3 linked regions of the Homo sapiens genome follow. The protein of the gene in region 3 interacts with the protein of the main gene of each other region in a pairwise test. Each region holds a gene or a part of one and is shown on either strand. Other genes may lie near its edges.

Region 1 (7,899 bases), on a different chromosome or scaffold from region 3:
GTCTCTTGTTTCACAAGTAGGGGAAACTGAGGCATGGAGTAAGCAGGGCCTGGCCCTGAGTCCCCCAGCCAGGGTGACCTCTGTCCTGTGGGCACTCCTGTTGGATACATGCTGTGAGATAGATGGGCCCAGATAGACTGAGAGAGATGACAGCTGCACTCTTCTCACCACGTTACATACAGTCACACGTCTCATCCTCACCACAGCCAAGACTGGATAACCTCATCTGCAGAGGGGAAACTGAGGTACAGACAGGTAGAATCACCTGCCAAAGGTTGCCCAGTTCATAGTACCAGACCCATACCAGACCACGGGTCCATACCTGAGCAGCCTGACCCCAGGGTGTGTGCTTGGAGCCACCATACTAAACAGTCCTCCTTGCGAAGTCACTGGCTGCCCTCCATGCAGCATCCTGGAGCTTCTCCTGCTCCCACTGGAGAAGGCTCTGAATTGTCTAAAACAGATCCCCAGCCCCCTGAGGAACAGCAGGCAGTGGCAGCGTGGGGAGAGCAGACTTAGCTCTGTGCAGTCAATGTAGAGCCAGCCCCTTGGGCTTCTTGGGCGTTCTCGACCTCAGATATCCCTTCCAGAAAATAGGGCAGTGGCCCTGCGTGGAGACTAAGGTTGCCAGGAAGGAAGGAGGACCTAGAAGGTACTTTTCCAAACTTGGTAGTGGCCTGTGTCCTCTCTTTCTTTCTGACTCTTAGGGGAGTTTGGAGGTGGGGGTTGATGGGAGAAGAGAGGGTTGGGACAGCTGGTGCCAAAGACATGGGATTCAGCAGGTTCCCTTGTGGACCGTGTGCTCCAGCCGTGTGCTGTACGGACCCAGCGCGGCCCTCGGCTTCCAGGAGCTCGCACTCTGGATGGGAGGATCCAGCGCGAGTCTCGGGGTCCTGGGACAGGAGCCGCTGGACAGGGGGCTGTGGTGTGCCCCCCAGCAAGGCCCTTCTGATGTGTCATGGCAGGGCACGGTGGGCAGCAGTTGGCCCCAGCTGGGGCAGAGTCTCAGTTCTACCACTTGAGAACTGTGTCCTGGGCAAATATTGGCTTCTCTGTGCCTCTGCTTCTTTGTGTGAATAGTCAGCAGTTTGATCTTGGGGACCTGCCAGGGGCTGTGTCGCTGAAGACCCCGTGTATGTGGCCGGCTGGTACTGAGTGGGGGGCTGTGGCCTGCCCTTGCCCCACCCCTTGCCTGAGCCCTCTGAGTGCCAGCGGCCTGGGCAGGTGAAATCAGAGATGAGGGAGCGCCGGAGGCCAGGGCACCTTGGCGGTCATCTGCTCCCTCCTCCGCATGTGTGGGGCGGGCAGAGGCACCAGAGGAAGACACATATGTGACGGGGAAAGGTACATATTCGTGTTTGCTGACAATGAGACTTTGCGTCAATCGTGGGTCCTCACAGGCTGCCCCGGCTCCCCCCGCATCGGGAAGCTCCTGTCTTCTGCTCCCTGGCCTGGTCCCGCCTTCCCCCTCCATCAGCTGGTGTGAACTTGGCCACACACAGTTAGGAAGGAAAACTGCTCAGGCAAGGAAACGGTGTCGCCTCTCCCGGAGCCTTTCTTTTCCTGCCTGGCTGTTTTCTCAGTCCTGGCTCCCAGGCCCTGAATGTGTGTGCTGGAGAGGCAATCAGAACCCCCTTGGAGTGGGAGGAGGACTTGTCCGTCTCCAGTCCAGCCTCCCTGCCTGTCCCCTGAGTTACTGCTCTTACTGAGGGCGCTGTGGTGGTCATTCATAGACTCTCGGACTGCTGGGACACATTTCCAGCTAGAAGTGGCATCTGCCAGCCTGAAGGGCTGAGGCTGCTAGGGCTGTGCACAGCCTCAGCCCTATCTGCTGAGCGCCACGGGGCCTGGAGCGAGGGACTGATGCGATGAAGCTCCCTTCCTCCCCCAGAGCCCCGCAAGTCCAGCAGAGGCCACCTGTCTCTGGGGCCGGTGAGAGGGGGCCTTTGGTGGCCATTAACGCCGCTCTGCACATTGGAAATGCCAGGCAGAGCCGGGCTGCACCGTGGAGGCAGCAGAGTACCCCAGGCCTTCCTCCCATCTCAGCCTGCTCTTCCCTTTCAGTCCCTGACATTTCTCCCAGGCACATACCAGCACATGACAATGAATCTGAGCCCCTCCAGGCCCCCACACCCGGGCTGCGGCTGTCTCTGCTCATCTGTCAGTCACCCGATCCCCCACACCTGTTCCAGGCACAGCTGCCCACCCGCACGCACAGCTATGAATAGGGCGGAGGGAGGGTTGCAAGGGGGCACTCACAGGGCAGGGGACCGGGGCAGCTCTCATTTTTTCTTAGGCCAAGAAGCGTAGCTTGTTTTGGGTGGTTGCTCAGTGTGGGGGGATATGAGGGTGGACAGGAAATGTCAGGAAGGAGTATAGCTGCAGGAGAAGGGGTGAGGCTGTAATTAGAAGGATCCAGGCACTGAGGACGAGTCGAGGTGCTCTGGGGCGGTTCGTCCGTGTCGCCGGCTGGTGTGTTCCGGGTTTATGCAGTGTGAACATGAGTTCTGGGGCTGATTGTGGGATCTCTCTTTCTCCCCCTGACCCATTGCTCAACCCTAGCACTTGCATTCTATTTGTTCTCCCGATTATAAATTCCCTGAGAGCAGAAACAATGTCTCAACCTCTCTGGGCCCCCCTGCCTCTAGCACTGCTGGCCTGGGCTGGACAAATGGGCACCTGAGCGATGGGAAGAGCCAGGGAGTGGGAGCTGATGACAGAAGAGTGTATCTGAGATGGGGGTGGAGCTGGGGCGCAGAACTCTCAGGGTGAGCAGGACAGGGTAGGTTCCTGCTTGCGCCTGAGGGACCTTGCTCTTCCCACTGGTGCCACCCGGAGGTGAGAGGGTGAACAGCCGCCTGCAACCTTGATTGAAGGCCCACCCTACTAAGGCCCTGGGAGAGCTTAGTTCTTGCCTCCAGGGAGCATCGTATCTGGAAGGGGGCAAGGACATCTGGACAGATTATGACAAGCAGGGTAATAGAGGGGGATCTGCCAATTGCTCCTGGGGGCTGGGGGCAGCCGCTGCCTCTGTGTGTCTGGAAGAGCTGGGAGGTGTGGATGCCAGTCCTTCCCAGCTTGGCACACTGGATTCTTCTAAGATGGCACGTGAATATGCATTTTTTTAAATAGTTAAGTAGTTGCCCAGGCTCAGTGGCTCATTCTTGTAATCCCCCCACTTTGGGAAGCTGAGGCAGGAGGATCACTTGAGCCCAGGAGTTCGAGACCAGCCTGGGCAACATGGCGAAGCCCTATCCCTGTGTTTTAAAATAACTTTATTTGAAAATATGGAAAATAGTTATAGGCCAGACGCGGTGGCTCACGCCTATAATCCCAACACTTTGGGAGGCCGAGGCAGGTGGATCACTTGAGGCCAGGAGTTCGTGACCAGCCTGGCCGATATGGTGAAACCCCACCTCTACTAAAAAAAAAAAATACAAAAACTAGCCGAGCGTGGTGGTGGGCACCTGTAATCTCAGCTACTCAGGAGGCTGAGGCAGAAGAATCACTTGAACCCGGCAGGCGAAGGTTGCAGTGAGCTGAGATTGCACCACCACACTCCAGCCCAGGCGACAGAGCGAGATTCCGTCTCAAAAAATAAAATTAAAAAAATAGTTATATAGTTATTTTCATATATATTAGAAAGAATAGAATCCTTGATTTCATGGATTTATTGCTTAGAATGGAATTAAGGAATAAAAGTGAGTTGATTTCAAAGAATCAGGATGTGTCGTAGATGGCACATGAATGTGGCATTGATCAGAGGGACCATGCGCGGTTAAAATCTGAGGGTCACCACCATTGATGCCTGGCCTCACCTCTTGGTGTTCCCCACCATGTCCAGTGCATCCTTCCCAGGCAGCTGGGCTTCCTGCCAGCGGCATTTCAGGCATTGTTCACATTTTTGCCCTGTGCTTCCAGCTACAGAATATGTCCTGAGCACACAAACTGTCCCCCAGGCCCTTTTTAGGAACAGTCTGACAAAGTCAGTCTCCTAGGAGGAGCAGGTGACTTCGAGAAAATAGGAGACAGGCCAGGTGCAGTGGTTCACACCTGCAATCCCAACACTTTGGGAGGCCAAGGTGAGAGGATCACTTGAGGTCAAGAGTTTGAGACCAGCCTAGGAAACAGCGAGACCCTGCCTCTACAAAAAATTTAAAAATTAGCCAGGTGTGGTGGCACATGCCTATAATCCTGGCTACTCAGGAGGCTGAGGTGGGAAGACTGCTTGAATCCAGGAGTTCGAGGCTGCAGTGAGCCGTGATCATACCACTGTACTCCAGCCTGAGTGACAGAACAAGATTCTGTCTTTAACAAAAAAAAAAAAAAAGAAGAAGAAGAAGAAAACAGGAGCCCGAAAGCCTGGGTTCTGGTCCCATTCACCTTATATTTGCCTGTAAGACCTTCGGCCAGTCACAGCCACAGTTAAATCTAGTCCGGCAGAGGCCTCAGCCACCTCTGCCATGCCATCCTGGGCACCCTGCCTACAATGTGTCATCCCCTCCCTCCCAGCATCACAGATGGAGACAGAGTGGGGAGACTGAGGCCAGCTCAGGGGTGGTAGTGGAGGGTGTTTAGGATAAATGCTGCTGTCTGTTTCAGAGGCTGAGCATTGACACGAATGCTTTTTTTCCCTAAAGGCCTCATCAAAGCCGAGGCAGGTGCACTGAACCATATGCCATTCTGTTTCAGCATGAAAACAGCCTTTTTTTCCTCATCATAAACGTAATCCACCCTCATTCTGCTCCGTAGCCTGCTTTCCCACTCAGTGTGTTTGTAGTCATCCATGATAATAAATGCAGGTCCTTCTCAGCGTTTTTTTGTGGCTACATAATGTTTCTATTGTGCTATAGACAATCAACACCCACCGCCAGTCTAGAGAAAGGTCCTGCTCTGGGAAAACTTCTCCAAAGGAGAGAAAAATAACGATTGAGTGTCCCCTCATGGCCAGTAGTAGAATTGCTTGGTGCCTGGCTCTGAATCTGACCAAAACCTTCCTGGGGTTCTAGGGATCCCCTTATCTTTGCACAGAAGAGTCCTTGGTGTCAGAACCTTGACCAAGGCCTGACGCTTTACTGCATTCGTAGGGCTGCGCTCTGGGCACAGCTTGCAGTGATTTCAGACCGGGGTGTGGGTGGGAGGAGCGGCCTCCCCTGAGAATAAGCCTTTGTAATGTGCCTGTGCGTTGTTTCTGAGTCTTGACTTGTTCTCTTAGCACCCCTGGCTCAGATGGGGTGATTTGATGTGGGGCTGGAGTTCTGGGCATGGGGACCCCTAAGGCGTAGGGCTTCAGGAATACAATTCCTGCCTCAGAGTCCCCAAAGCACCAAATTGTCTCATCTGGTGCCTTCCTTTCTTCGCTGTGGCACTCTGCTGGTTTGGGACAAGTATTGGGGTTGGAGGCTGAAGACCTGGGGTCTTTCACTTACTAGTTGGATGGTGTTGGGCAAGGCTAACAGTCAGGACCCCTCATGGATAAAACCGAGGCCGTGGTTTTGGGTGTGAGATCAGCACAGAGTCTTACTCCGCCTTTTCTAGAAGGGAAGTTTCAGATCAGCCCCACATCCAGCAGGAGGCCCCCTGGGCTCTGTTTTCATCAGGGGAAGGAAGAGCAGCCTGTCTGAGGCAAGGTGAGAAGCTGACCTAGAGGACCAGTGTCTGGGCCTGTGAAGGGCCTTGTGAGCCAGGCCGGGGACCAAGACTCCTGTCCCTTGTGGCTAAATGGCTCAATGAGACGGTGAAGTGACTTGACTTCTGAAGAGATTCCCGGGGCAGTTAAGAGAATGAACCAAAGGGAGGGACAGCTGGTGCTGGGGAGATTGCTCTGGAGGCTGAAGCAGAGATGTCAAAAGATCCAAGGTGACGGGACCCAGCAGTGCCTAGAGGGGGAAGAGGCCAGCCCCAGAGCCGTTTCTGAGGGAGCATCGATCAGGTCTCTGGCGAGACAAGAGGATGAGACAGGAGCAGCATTCACCCCTTCCACCCTCCCCACTGCCGGTCTCTTGCCCTGGTTTTCTGTTCTCATGCTTCCTGCACTATCAAAATTGACTCTGGAATAATTCTGATAGACGCATTCAAACTAAAATAGAGCTGACTGGTAGAGATTCAAACCTTTGCAGTTTAACAAGAACAAAGTCTTAGACTATGAAACTTGAAATCTTAAAGATGGAATCTGGGGCTCCCACCTGCTGGGTGTGTTAATATCTGGGCAGGCAGCAGTGGCCTGAAACTGTGTGGGTCCCAGTGTCCTCTTTTCCCATGATTTAGGCAACACGACCTGATTTTGTACCAGGCAGAGATGTAGAGGAATGTGGAAGCTTTCTGGCGTCCTACTGTCTACCCTCAGTCTGATTTCTTCCCAGCCCTAGAGCCGGGACCGGGACCCTGAGGTCTCCTTGATGCTCCCGTCTGACATGGCACCTGCTGACACTCCCTCGCCTTCCCACTGTCTCCCTCCAGGCAGACCTCAACACCAACATCGAGGATGAAGGCAGCTCCTTCTATGGGGTCTCCAGCCAGTATGAGAGCCCCGAGAACATGATCATCACCTGCTCCACGAAGGTCTGCTCTTTCGGCAAGCAGGTGGTGGAGAAAGTTGAGGTAGGAGGCCACCCTGGCGGGTGAGGGCCGGTGGCAGTGGTCTGTGTTTGCTGGGCATGGCTTCCATTTGCTTTCAGGAGGAATGCCCTCCGTTAGGGAGCCAGGATAATCCCTTGTTGCCTTCCCTGTCTGCTGTCAGTGCTGTGTGCCTCCCACACTCCCCTTGGCACCAGTGTCCTGCCCAGCTAACCAGAGCCATTGCTGCCCTTTCAGGATCTTCCAAGCACGTCCTTGCAGGCACCCCCGGTCCTCTCCAAGAGCAGAGCCGCAGCACAGGCAGAGCCCTGGGCATCTACCTAGTCCAGCCCTCTGGCTTCACAGTGGAGGCCCAGAGAGAGCGGAGGCCTCCCACCAATCGCCCGCACATGGTCACACAGCTCATTAGTGCAGAAGCAGGGCTAAGATCTCTGTCCCCTGCTCACTTTGAACTCCATGAATGCCTAAAACTGTTCCTTCCCTGATTTTCTGCTTATGGGTACCCTGGAGACCCTGCTCTAATGGAAGTTACAGAAAATTCAGGCCTGCCTTTTATGGTTTCTCCCACTCTGCTAAACCCCCGGCCAAGGGCAGTGCAGGGCAGTGGTGAGGAGCATAAGCGCAGGTGAATCCCCACCCAGGCACCCTGCTTTCCGGTGCGTGTCTGGGGGGTTGTGATAAAATCCTCTGTATTTTGGCCCTAAACAAGGGCCAAGTTATCTTCACTGTCCGTGACACGGTCTCCTGCAGCACCCTGTGTTCTGGGCCCGCTGCGTAGTGGCAGTGACAAGGAGCTGGGACTGAAGGCCTCCAACCCAAAGCACCTGTGGACTCTGAGAGTCCGGGGCCCTGTGCCGCCCACACACTTGTTAAACCTCCTCACCGTGCAGGCCAGTCTTCGTCCCTCTCCTCACCCCTTCCCCAGATTGGTCTGAATTAATGAAGTCCTACTCTCACAGTCTGTCAGTTATTGATAGCCTTCCTCATGCCAAATGCAGCCAGATGCCCGGCCAGCACCAGGGAGGAGACATTACTCCACACAGTGCTTCTCCGCCTGGCTGCACCTTGCAGTCTCCTGGGAGCTTTGGAAACACACCAGTGCCTGAAACCCATTCATCACCCCTCAGTCTCTAGGGTAGAGTCCAGGCATTAGTGGTTTTTAAAAAGTTCCTCAAATTATTTATTTCTAATTAAACTTGTAAAACTTTTGAGATAATGGTGGATCCACTTGGGCTCATAATCCCATGTGCGCTTTACCCAGCTCTTGCCCTGGCCATATCTTGCATAACTAGAGTGTAAAGTGGACAACCAGGAAATTGACGT
Region 2 (7,899 bases), on a different chromosome or scaffold from region 3:
GTCAGCAGAGAGACCATTGTCAGTGCCACTCTGTCAAGAGCCCGTTTTTCAGCATCTCACTAACTCTGACATTTCCCATCTCATTCTCTTTCTTCTTGCCAAGAGCCACTGCTTCTTTATGGTCACTGTGTTCTCTCTGTTACCTCCTTTAAAGCTTTCTTGACTCTGCTCCTCTCCTTTGCTCTCTTCTCTGTGTTTAGCTTTGAAGCCCCAACTGCTCACATGCAGTCCTAGGATTTCTCTCCCCACCTGCAGCAATGCCCCTTTTCCCTAAGAGTTCCTGCCCTGCCCGTAGCCCCTGGAGGCTGTTCTGGAGCTGTTCTGGGCTGTCCTAGCTGAGGTGCTGGAATCCCTCTGCTCTTCCTTTTTCTTCCCCTGGCACAGTGCCACTTGCCATCTTTCTGGGCATCTTCCTCTTGCTGTCAAAAAAAAAATACCGACAGAGAACTACTTAGGTGAAGGCTGAGAGGCTGACATAAAAAAAATATTATTAGTTGGCCTGAGAGAGTGTAATAAAGGGAGTTTTATGAGGTATGACAGCTTTCTAAAGTTAACAAACCATCTGGCATTATGTCAAACAGACAAAGAGCTTGCCAGGAGCTGGCACTGGTGCCCAGCCCCATTTGGGCATGGTGGGATTGACCTTCCCCTCCTTACCTGGAGGCCACATTTGCTGTTTCTCCACAGTGAAAACAGTAAATGGGAATTCTTTGGTAGTGCAGAGTCTGAGTCTGTTCCCTCTGCCCAGCGTCTCTGTTTAGAACATACTGCAGGAGTGTCCACTGTACCAAGAAGGGTAGAAAGGGTCAAAAGAAAGCACGAGCCTGGCTTTGAGCAGCCTGCTTTGGTAATGTATCCCAAGGCCACAGTACAAAAGTCAAGAATACGTTGGACAGAAGACACCTTAATTGGAAACCTCCTTTGACTTAGTGTGAGAGGACAAGACACAATCCCAGTGTGGATGTTTTGCTCATCAAACAGGGCCCAGCACACACACCAGCCAGGTGCCCTCTTCCATGCAGTCAGCACCACTGCTAGTTTGGGGTCTTGACTAGAGGTCCACCTTTGGCCCACAGTTGCCCTGGGTAGGCCTGACAGACTCAGGGATGGTCTCTGTTGGCCTCTCCTAGGTACGCTCCACCTGCCCCCGGTTTAAGGGAGCATGACCGATGTGGCCGCATTTCAGGAGCACTAGGATATAATCTAACCTGGAGGCCAATTGTAAACAAGGGTTATTTAAGTAGCTTCACCAAGTATCATACTACCTGGTTATATTATCTTCTCACAGGCTGGTGTGAATCTCTGAGGCAGCCATATAAGTAAATAATAGGCTAGCAATGATAGCAGTTAACCTCTATTGAACTCCTGTTATGTGGCAGGCACTAGGGGAAGAACTTGGCACAGGTAGCCTGCCTGCCCACAGCAACCCTAGGTAGTAAATATTGGTATTCCCATTTTGCAGATGAGGAAATTGAGTCTAAAGAGTTTAAGAAAGTTGTCCAAGTCACATAGCTCGTAAGTGACAGGGCTAGGATTTGAACTCAAGGTGGTCTAAATCTAAAATACCTCCTTATCTGAGGCAAGAGGATTGCTTGAAGCCAGAAGTTTGAGACCAGCCTGGGCAACAAAGCAAAGCCCTGTCTCTACAAAAAATTTTAAAAATTAGCTGGGCATGGTAATGCATGCCTGCATTCCTAACTACTATGAGCTCACCACTGCACTCCAGCCTGAGTGACAGAGCAAGACACCATTTCTAAAATAAAATAATAAATACAAATAAAATACAATATAAATAAAATAATAAAACCTGCTTTTTACCCACCTATGAAGCCTGTGAATGTAGTACAAATGCCACACCCTTGAGCAGCTGTGGAATTCTGGGTTACAGGGAGATAGTTAGATGTAAGAATTTATGGTGTGAAGTGCTAGCTCTGTTACCCTAAAGGATAATGCAAACAATGAATGCTTGCTTCCCATTTCAGTTTCTTCATTTATAAAATAGGCACATGCAGCCAGGCGCAGTGACTCACACCTGTAATCCCAGCACTTTGGCAGGCTGAGGTGGGTGGATCACGAGGTCAGGAGTTCAAGACCAGCCTGGCCAAGATGGTGAAATCCTGTCTCTACTAAAAATACAAAAATTAGCTGGTCGTGGTGGCAGATGCCTGTAATGGTGAAACCCTGTCTCTACTAAAAATACAAAAATTAGCTGGGCATGGTGGCAGGTGCCTGTAATCCCAGCTACTTGGGAGGCTGAGGTGGGGAACGGCTTGAACCCAGAGGCGGAGGTTGCAGTGAGCCAAGATCATGCCACTGCACTCCAGCCTGGGCAACAGTGTGAGACTGTCAAAAAAAAAAAAAAAAAAAAAAGCACGGGCAAAAAACATACCCCTAATATTTTTAAAACAAATATTTTCACTGAAGCTGCCTCTCACTGCCACCACTGCCATTGCTACCTACAGATGTTCCTGAGCAGTTGGAAGTTCTTTGTCTCATCTGATATATATATATATATTTTCAAAGACCCAAAATACTTTAGTGATGGAAACAGTAATCTGTGACTAAAGATATTTGTTCAATCTGAATTTTTTGTTTGTGTGTTTGTTTGCAGAGAATGGCAAATCGGTTCATTGGAAACTTGGAGCTGATAAGGAAGTCTGGGTATGGGTGATGGGCGAACACCATCTAGATAAACCCTATGATGTGCTCTGTAATGAAATTATTGCTGAGAGGGCCCGGCTGAAAGCAGAACAGGAGGCAGAAGAGCCCAGGTATGAGATCTGCAAACCAACCAGAGACTTAAAGACTCTCCAGACTTTAGAAAACATTGCAAACACACCTCTTGCTCACAGTATCAGGTGGGAGAGTAGGGTTGGGTTGGAGGGTCACAAAAGTCACTTTGGATCTCTTTGGAAGGTTGATTTAGACTTTTGGTCTAAAGACCTTTTGGATCTCTTTAGAAGGTTGATTTAGACTTTTGATCTAAAGTCTTTGATAGCACTAAAGACCTCATGAAAATCTTTAGTGCTGTCAAATCAGCTGCTTCATCTCCCTGCTTGTCATTCCAGTTTTGATCTGTATGAGTGTATGAGTTCCCCAGTGATCACCCGTGGCTGCACTAGAGTCATGTTAGAGCAATGCAGGCCGACGCAGCTGAGTATCAGGAACATATGTGAGAAATGCAGTGACTGTGCAAGCTTCAGGCCTTCCAAGGAGATCACTTAGATACAGGCGGCTGGATAATCAGGCTCTTTAGGTGCCTACCCAGTGCAAGGTACTGGGAATTCAAAGAGAAACAGGGAGCTTCCAGTCTAGGAGGAGAAGTAGACATATGCACAGCTCACTGCGGCCAGTGCAGGCTGTGATTTGTGCTATAATTAAGGTACAAACAGAAAGTTTACCAAGCATAGGTGGGAACCTATCATTCTGATCCACAGACGAGGTGAAATCTGAACCAAACCTTGAAAGGAGTGGTTTTCCAGCTACAGAAGGCCAGGAAGGAAAGTGCAGGCAGAGGGCTTAACCAAGATCCCTAGACTTGACTACGGATGGTTCTTTGGGGAATGATGAGGTCTTCTGAGCATTTGGAATACACTTGGACAACTGCTTCAGAGGCCAGATTTAGGAGTTTGGAACTTATTCTCTGGACGGTGAGGTTTTTCAATAGGGAAGTGACATCAACTGCAGATGTAGGAAGGTAACTCGGAGGGAAACTGAGGCAGGTGATGGCGCTCCTCTGCTGGGTACCTGGGGTGCTCTGGGTGTCCTCCTCTGGCTCTGGGCAGTGATGTTGACAGCCTTACCCTGAGGTGGTGAAGTGGAAATTGGGACAGACATGAGGACCACCGTTCAGTTCCCAAGGGCTAGGGATGCAAAGCAGACTCTGTGGCACAGTGGATGGTGCATTGGACTTTCAAGGGCTGGGATGCTGCCCACTAGTGCCTGTAACTTTAAAACTATCCATGGACATATGAAGATAAAGGAATTATTTAATCATCGATTGGAAGCAGACGGTGTGGTTCTAATAGGTTAACTTCTAAACCAGGAGTTGAGCAGACCAGGGTTCAGATCTTGGCTGTACCACTATGTGGTCTTGGATGAATTACAAAATTTCTTGGAGCTCTTATAACAAAGTGAGGATGACAATGCCTTCCTCACAGGGTTGTGATGAGGATGAAGTTAACGTCTTTACACACCTAGCAAAGGGCCCAGCATGTTAGAAGCACTCAGTAAGTGGTGTCAGTTACTGTTTTTCACATAATTTGAATGTCGACATATGCTTTGGAAAGGCTCTTCCTGTTGAAGAATGTTTTTTGAGAATTTCACTTTTGCCTCTCTTCAGAAAAACTCACTCTGAAGAATTCACCAATAGCTTGAAAACAAAATCACAGTACCATGATCTGCAGGCTCCGGATAACCAGCAGACTAAAGACATCTGGAAGAAAGTGGCAGAAAAGGAGGAACTGGAGCAAGGATCGAGGCCAGCACCAACCCTGGAAGAAGAGAAAATCCGAGTGAGTCCTTACTGTCTGTAGACGTGCGGAATTTCATCATGGGGGAGAAAAAGCTATTGAGGCCACAGAGACTACTGTGGCTGAGTGTCAGGATCCTCCAGTGGCTTTCTTGGGAGAAATGCCTCCTAACTTTAAGATCCTCCAGGGCAGGCACGGTGGCTCATGCCTGTAATCCCAGCACTTTGGGAGGCCAAGGCGGGCGGATCACGAGGTCAGGAGATCGAGACCATCCTGGCTAACACGGTGAAACCCCGTGTCTACTAAAAATACAAAAAAAAAAATTAGCTGGGCGTGGTGGCGGGCGCCTGCAGTCCCAGCTACTCGGGAGGCTGAGGCAGGAGAACGGCGTGAACCTGGGAGGTGGAGCTTGCAGTGAGCCGAGATTGCGACACTGCACTCCAGCACTCCAGCCTGGGCGACAGAGCGAGACTCCATCTCAAAAAAAAAAAGATCCTCTTGCTCATGTCACTTGGGGGATTTACCTTCCATGCTACATCATGGAAAATAAAGCACCCCTATTTCATGAGACTGAAAGTAACAAGAACGCTAGGAATGCAATTTGGCATTTTAAGATATTTTCAGGTTCTCCTCAATGCTGCCCCATTATATGTCTTCTGTTACAGCAGAGGTTGGCAAACATTTTCTGTAAAGTGCAACATAGTAAATGGTTTAGGCTTTATGGGCCATGCCATCTTTGTCACAGCTATACACAAATGAATGAGCATGGCTGTGTTCCAATAAAACTTTATTTTCAAGCACAGGCTGAGGGGCAGATTTGGCCTGTTCATGATTTAGATTACATTCTACTGAGTCTTAGCCTTTTTGTTGCGGATTCTAAACATCAGTGCCTGTTGGGCTTCATTGGCTCTGCCTGTGACTTGGGGACAGTTACCTCCCCAACATAATAGAAATTTTATACTCAGAATTGGTATGAATTCTCTTATGGTTCAGATGGTTTAAAAAACTCAAACATAATTTGCTGGTTGGATTATAGTTTGGGAGAACAATGAAACACCTTATTATTCTACCAGGAATTTAATTACACTGAGAATTAACAGGGATTTGCAGTTGTTTGATTTCCATTTATGTCTCCAGCCCTGCAGCACTGGCTGTGTGTGCTTTTGACTTCTTTGAGGCTATCATATGGGAATACAGGTATCTCCTGCCTCCTCCTAGGACCTAGTGAGACTCTGATAACTAACATGGTCAGGGGTTATTCCACAGCAAAGCACACTGCTGAGTGTCTCATGTAATCCTCACAATAACATGAACTAGAGACATTTGTCCATTTTACAGCTGGGGAAACTGAGGCTAGGTGTGGTTAAGCAACCTGCCCAAGGTCTTATTCAAACCCAGGTCTGCAGGACCCCCAGGCTATTCCTTAAATATTAACTACTAACTCCTTAATTCTTAACTCTCATGTTTGGTTGTGTCATTAATATGAGGGCTATGAAGAAGCTTTTTATGAAGGGCTACAAATATGAGGCTCAAAATATTTAGGAAGAGAAAATTCTAAATTTGGTTTTTCATCTCAAGGTCAGCCCTGGACATGCTCCCCACATCCTCATTGAGGCCTCCCGTCCTCCCCAGGTGTGCTTTGCACTCAGCATGTGTAACACTAAACTCCCCCAACACGGCTCCCCTTCCCACACCCCTCCAACCAAGAACAACAGTAATAACAAGAAAGCTCCTTCCAGAGTATTAATTATGCAGCTGAGTGTGTTTGCTCACACTTGTAATCTCAGTGCTTTTGGAGGCCGAGGCAGGAGGATCCCTTTTGAGGCCAGGAGTTCCAGACAAGCCTGGGCATAATCCTGCAGAGACAGTGAGACCCCCATCTCTACAAAAAATTAAAAAAAAACAGCCAAGCATGGTGGTGCATGCCTGTAGTCCTAGCAACTCAGGAGGCTGAGGCAGGAGGATCGATTGAGCCCAGGAATTTGAGGCTGCAGTGAGTCCTGATTACACCACTGTACTGTAGCCTGGGGGACCAAGTGAGACCCTAAGTCTTAAAAAAAAGTATTAAGTATGTATGCTTATATTTGTGCTTGAATTACAGTACTTTTTTAGACCTTTTTTTTTCAAAAGTAGGACAAAAGATTAAAATGGAAATTAAAATAGATACCACAGTTATTATTCTTTAACCATCTCATAAATATTATATTGAGAGTGGCACTGTTGCCTTCCTTAGGTGCCTGCTAAACTGACATATGGAAAGAGATGGGGGCAGGGGAGAAAGAAATATTCAGATAGAAGGAATATGGAAATAGATGGGTGACAGGTTTTTATATTCCTGCTTTTTATCTTTCCCTGTGTCAGAGAAGATGCTGTCAGGGGCTCCTGTGGTATTTGCTGAAGTTCACTCTGACAGCAGGCCACACAGCGAGGAGCCTGATTTCACAGCTAGTGTGAGCCTTTAAAGAGGTCGTCTGCTACCTCTCAGACAACTGACTCGATGGTACATTTATATTTTTATTGTAAGTTGTGTATATGTCACTATAGTGGTCTGAATATTTATCCCCCGAAATTTATGTCCACCTAGAACCTCAGAATGTGAGCTTATTTGGAAATAGATCTTTGCAGATGTAATTAAAGTAAAGGATCTCAAGATGAGATCACCCTGGATTTAGGGTGGATCCTAAATCCCAAGACAAGTGTCCTTATAAGAGGAGAGCCAAGGAAAATGTGAGAGAGAGTGTACTAGTCTGTTTTCATGCTGCTGATAAAGACATACCCAAGATTGGGCAGTTTACAAAACAAAGAGGTTTAATGGACTTACAGTTCCATGTAGCTGGGGAGGCCTCACAATCACTGTGGAAGGTGAAAGGCACGTCTAACATGGCAGCAGACAAGAGAGCTTGCGCAGGGAAATTCCCATTTATAAAACCATCAGATCTCATGAGACCCACTCACTATCACAAGAACACCATGGGAAAGACCCACCCCCATGATTTAACTGCCTCCCACCAGGTTCCTCCCACAACACATGGGAATTGTGGGAGTTACAATTCAAGATGAGATTTGGGTGGGGACACAGCCAAACCATATCAGACAGAAACACTGAGAAGAAGGCCGAGTGAAGAAAGAGGCAGAAAGCAGAGTTATGCTGCCACAAGATGGGAGCCACCGGAAGCTGGAAGAGGGGGCATAGCCCTGCACAGCCTTGATTTCTGACTCTAGTCTCCAGAACTGTGAGAGAGTAAATATCTGTTGTTTTAAGTCACCAAGTTTATGGCCATTCATTGCAGCAGCCCTGGGTAGTGAATGCAGTTACTTCTCATTGACTTTCTCAGAAATGTTTCATTATGCTACCCTAATTATTAAATAGTTATTAAAATGGAGAAGCAACCATTTTAGAGAGACAGACCCACTTTCTGGAAAACCA
Region 3 (4,981 bases):
GTTTTTAATTTCCATAGGTTATTGGGGAACAGGTGGTGTTTGGTTACATGAGTAAGTTCTTTAGTGGTGGTTTGTGAGATTTTGGTGCACTCATCACCTGAGCAGTATACACTGCACCCAATTCGTAGTCTTTTATCCCTCACCCCCTTCCTACCCTTTCCCCCTGAGTCCCCAAAGTCCATTGTGTCACTCTTATGCCTTTGCATCCTCATAGCTTAGCTTCCACTTACGAATGAGAGCATACAATGTTTGGTTTTCCATTCCTGAGTTACTTCACTTAGGATACTATTCTCCAATCTCATCCAGGTCACTGTGAATGGCATTAATTCATTCCTTTTTAGGCTGAGTAGTATTCCATCGTATATATATTTCACAGTTTCTTTATGCACTCGTTGACTGATGGGCATTTGGGCTGGTTCCACATTTTTGCAACTGCGAATTGTGCTGCTATAAACATTCATGTGCAAGTATCTTTTTCATATAATGACTTCAGGAGTAGCTATTCTTATATCAGTCAATACACTTTCAGACAATAGACTTTCTGTCTAGTCAGAAATGGTAACGGCAGAAAGATAAGTGATATTGGAAATTTGGTAGCAATACTAAGTATGATCCGATCCTAACTACACTGTTTTCAGTTGCAGTAGTTCAGGTCACCAGAGAAAATGAATCCTGATGGCTGTTAAGGAGATTATGTACCTCATAATCCACTGGGGATTCATATCCCCGTGGATAATTTGTTTCATTATAACCAACACTGGCATTAACCAGAAAATGGCTTCAGGTGCCCCAGACTTCATGGAAACACAGTGAAAAGTAGGAAAACTTTTACAGATGAAGGTCCTCAGAGGAACTCTGTCAACAGACATTTTATGATTAGAGAATAATTAAAATGAAAGCAAGCACCTTTGTTAGTGGAAGTGGCACCAACAAAACTGGGCCAATAAACTGAATGTTTCTTCCTATGTGTGTTTCATTGGACCCAAGGTAAACTACAACAAAAAATGAAAAGTATAGTGTATCAGTCCATTCTCGCATTGCTATGAAGAAATACATGAGACTGGGTAATTTACAAAGAACACAAGTTTAATTGTCCCACGGTTCTGCAGGCTGTACAGGAAGCATAGTGACTTCTGCTTCTAGGGAGGCCTCAGGAAGTTTCCAATCATGACTGAAGGCAAAGGGGGAGTGAGACATCTCATACGGTGGCAGCAGGAGCAAAGTGGAGAAGTGCTATACACTAGTAAACAACTAGCTCTCAGGAGAACTCAAGGACAGTACCAAGAAGAATGGTGCTAAGCTATTCATGAGAAACCCACCCCCATGACCCAATCACCTCCTATCAGGACCCACCTCCAACAGTGGGGATCACAATTCAACATGAGATTTGGGCATGGACACAGATCCAAACCATATTATATAGATTAGAAAGAATAGGACAGCTTGAGGTTCAGGGGCATATAAGAAGCCTGGGAACACGGTATCTACTTCTTCTCCTTTTCCTTCTTTTAGAAACAAAATCAAACCACAGAAGAACTCTTAAAGTTTGAGTAACAAGACAAAAATTATCTTAAAGGGCTAACACATCATTTCTAGATAATAACAATTTGAATATTTTAAACCCCATATTTCCCACAAGGATCCGTTGTAACGGGTACCATTCATATATCTATCACAAAGATTTGATTCTCAGATATTCTGATCAAATCTCAGATGGCTGATCAATTCTCTGTAAGTTATTTGCTTTCCTGAAGATCTTTCTGTGCCAATGTCTGAAAAGAAAACATAGTAATTACTCATGAGGAAAAGTAAATTCTTAATAAAATAATTACATAAAATGTACCTAAATTTAATGACAATAAATTCTGGGCATTTCTTAATTATATTTTTTATAAAAAAAAATAAATTCAAAGGTAACTTATTGAAACATTTTTTGAACAAGAAAATGTTTACCTAAAATATGTAACAACATGCAATGTATCAAATTAAAACTACATTTTAAGATAGTTTAAAGCTATTCATGTCTTTCACTAAAATGTAGTATGGCAAATACTGTGTTCATTTTATAAACAACCAAAGTAAGAGGTTAAAGCAATTTAAAGTGCTCCTACACAATCTGAAAATACATTTCCAACAATTGAATTCAAGGTTTTTGAGATTATACAAATACGCAATAAGAAAGTTTTAGGATCAAATATAATAAAAGTATAATTTATGCCTATCAAAAACAAAAAGCTTTTAAGGCATTATGATAGTTAAATTTCCTTCAGTGCAGTAATCCTCTAATAACAGTTTCAGTCAAGGAAATGTTATGAGGTCAGATCTAAAGTTGCTTTTTTTTAACTTACTTTGAAATCATACATATTCTCTTTGAATATAATTTGCTTCATGTAGCACCTAACTCTCTAGGAACTCAAAACACTTCATAGATTTACATCCTGATCCTAGTTATCTTCATTATTGCTTTTCTGTTTTTTGCAGAGGGATTAAACACTAGTTCAGTGATTTGTACACCAGTAAAACCGTTCCTTACCAGTAGGTAAAATAATGCTGAACAAAAGTTAAACAATCAATGATAACTTACCAACTCCAAAAATTCTATTTCTGTTTGGAGAGCTTCATAAACACTTTCCATGTCATCTTCCTTATAAAGTTCTAATTCTTTTTTAAGTCTATTTTAAAAGAAAATTTCACCTGTTAGTTTAATAATAAACTGTAATTGTATTACTGCACAGAGAGGGACAAGTTTGTAGCTTCTATAATCAGAATTTCAAGTTAAGACTAAATAATTGGCATATTTTAATTATCTATAATTCCATAAAGACTATATAAAATTTTGCGGTAAAACTTTTCATAAAGAAATTAAGGTAGACTGACTAGTAGACATTTAATATTTTTGTTGTTGTTGTTTTTTGAGATGGAGTCTCGCTCTGTCATCCAGGCTGGAGTACAGTGGTGTGATCTCGGCTCACTGCAACCTCTGCTTCCTGGGTTCAAGCGATTCTCCTGCCTCAGCCTCCCAAGTAGCTGGGATTACAGGCGGCTGCCACCACACTCAGCTAATTTTTGTGTTTTTAGTAGAGATGGGGTTTCGCCATGTTGGCTAGGCTGGTCTTAAACTCCTGACATCAAGTGATTCACCTGCCTGAACCTCCCAAAGTGCTGGGATTACAGGTGTTAGCCACCACGCCCAGCTGACATTTAATAATTTTATCATAACTAAAAGAGCAACATGAGCTGGTGGATAAAAAATATATAGTACTATGTCTTAACATCTCTGTTTTAGTCCTGGCCACCAGCAAACTGAATAAGCTTAGTTAAAACATTTAGCTTCTCTGAACCTCACCTGAAAACTTTTAAGTATAGAAAAAAAAATGACCCTTGAGCTCTCTTCTTGATCTAAAAGTAAACTATAACTTTATAATATACACACATAATTAAAATATATCTTAATTTGGGAGTGAGAAAGCAACATCTTTCTTTTCCCCAATTAAGTTTCTTTTCCCCAATTAAGTCTTTAAGTTTTTGAATATTTTGAATTTTTTAACATGAAAAAGCACATACATTTTATTAACGTGCATTGGGAATCACAAAAAAATAGGTTGGTTAGAACTGAAGCGGTTACATTCAGGTTTATTACCCTCTTAATGAAGGAAAGGGGGTTTGGAGTTGTTAAAGTTTATGAGAGACTGTCATTTGAAATGATCAAACCAAAATAGAGTTTCTGGAGCTAGGTGCCATGTAATCTATCTTGAAAATGGGCCAGTTTCCCAAAAAATAGGAGATTCATAGCAACCAATCAAAGGGGCCTTGAACCAACATAAGGCAGTCTCCTCTGAATTATGACTATAAGAAATTAATTTTGAAATGATTCTAGAAAAATCCAATTAAATGTTTATACTGATTTTTTTATTATACTTTAAGTTTTAGGGTACATGTGCACAACGTGCAGGTTTGTTACATATGTATACATGTGCCATGTTGGTGTGCTGCACCCAATAACTCATCTTTTAACATTAGGTATATCTCCTAATGCTATCCCTCCCCTCTCCCCCTACCCCATACTGAATTTTTTTGTATTTTCGGTTTTTCTTTTTTATGAGACTTTAAGGAACTAGACTATATGGAAGTATATGGGTGTAGTAATGGAAGATAAGGGCTATTTTCATTAAAATCTATTTATGCATACTCATCTTGGTATTGGCTCTGTCTTCAATGATAACAGTACCTCCTCTCTCCCTGGAATTAGTGTGTCACCCTTCTCATGCCTTACTTTTAAGCAGATAAAGCCTAAAAGGGTAGAGAATTCTTCCTGTAACTATTGAGTATCAATTGCCAAGATAATCCTTAAGACAATGTGGTATAATTTCAGGGTGGTATATTCTGGTCCCTTTAAAGCAAGGTCAGATAGGCAATAGAAAGAATAACCTTAAACAAAGAGCCAACAATTGTACTAATATCATACAAGTTTGATGATTATAAATGTGCTCTGGAAATTTATTGCCAAATCAGCACAGACTTTGAGGAATTTTTTAAAAATTATTTTATACCTGTATTTAATGTGGAAAATAGTAAAAGTAAGTTTTCCATTTCTGGCATTATGACTAACATTTTTTTCTGAAAAGAAAAACATAAACAAAAGCTAGGAGCTGTGGCTGAAGAGGTAGAAGGCTAGAGCCTGGAATTGGGCAGCTAGGAGGTTAAAGCTGCCCTGAGGGGAGATATGAGGAACAACATTGCTCTCCCAAACCTAAGCAACTCCTGGGCCAGCAACAAAGTGAGAAGTGTAGATCAATTTGAACTTTTGTTGAGCCCTGACCCTCAAGGGAAGCTGAAGGAGTTGTAAGATCAGTGGCATTTCCTGGATGCCAGCAGATGCAAAAGAAAATCTTCTCTATGGCTGCATAGTATTCCATGGTGTATATGTGCCACATTTTCTTTATCCAAATGCCCATCATTGATGGACACTGTGGATGGTTCC

Evidence for each region.
Region 1: the proteins of CCDC172 (region 3) and TEAD4 interact in binary tests that used the Homo sapiens proteins (3 or more experiments, as listed by UniProt).
Region 2: the proteins of CCDC172 (region 3) and SH2D4A interact in binary tests that used the Homo sapiens proteins (3 or more experiments, as listed by UniProt).

The regions. Positions count from the first base shown.
Region 1 is NC_000012.12:3,031,509-3,039,407, forward strand, and holds part of TEAD4 (transcriptional enhancer factor TEF-3), read left to right. Parts: intron 1-6,459; coding exon 6,460-6,600; intron 6,601-7,899. UniProt on the Homo sapiens protein: Transcription factor which plays a key role in the Hippo signaling pathway, a pathway involved in organ size control and tumor suppression by restricting proliferation and promoting apoptosis.
Region 2 is NC_000008.11:19,330,344-19,338,242, forward strand, and holds part of SH2D4A (SH2 domain-containing protein 4A), read left to right. Parts: intron 1-2,611; coding exon 2,612-2,771; intron 2,772-4,342; coding exon 4,343-4,514; intron 4,515-7,899. UniProt on the Homo sapiens protein: Inhibits estrogen-induced cell proliferation by competing with PLCG for binding to ESR1, blocking the effect of estrogen on PLCG and repressing estrogen-induced proliferation. May play a role in T-cell development and function.
Region 3 is NC_000010.11:116,376,114-116,381,094, reverse strand, and holds the end of CCDC172 (coiled-coil domain-containing protein 172), read right to left. Parts: intron 2,673-4,981; coding exon 2,585-2,672; intron 1,773-2,584; coding exon 1,737-1,772; 3' UTR 1,066-1,736; downstream 1-1,065.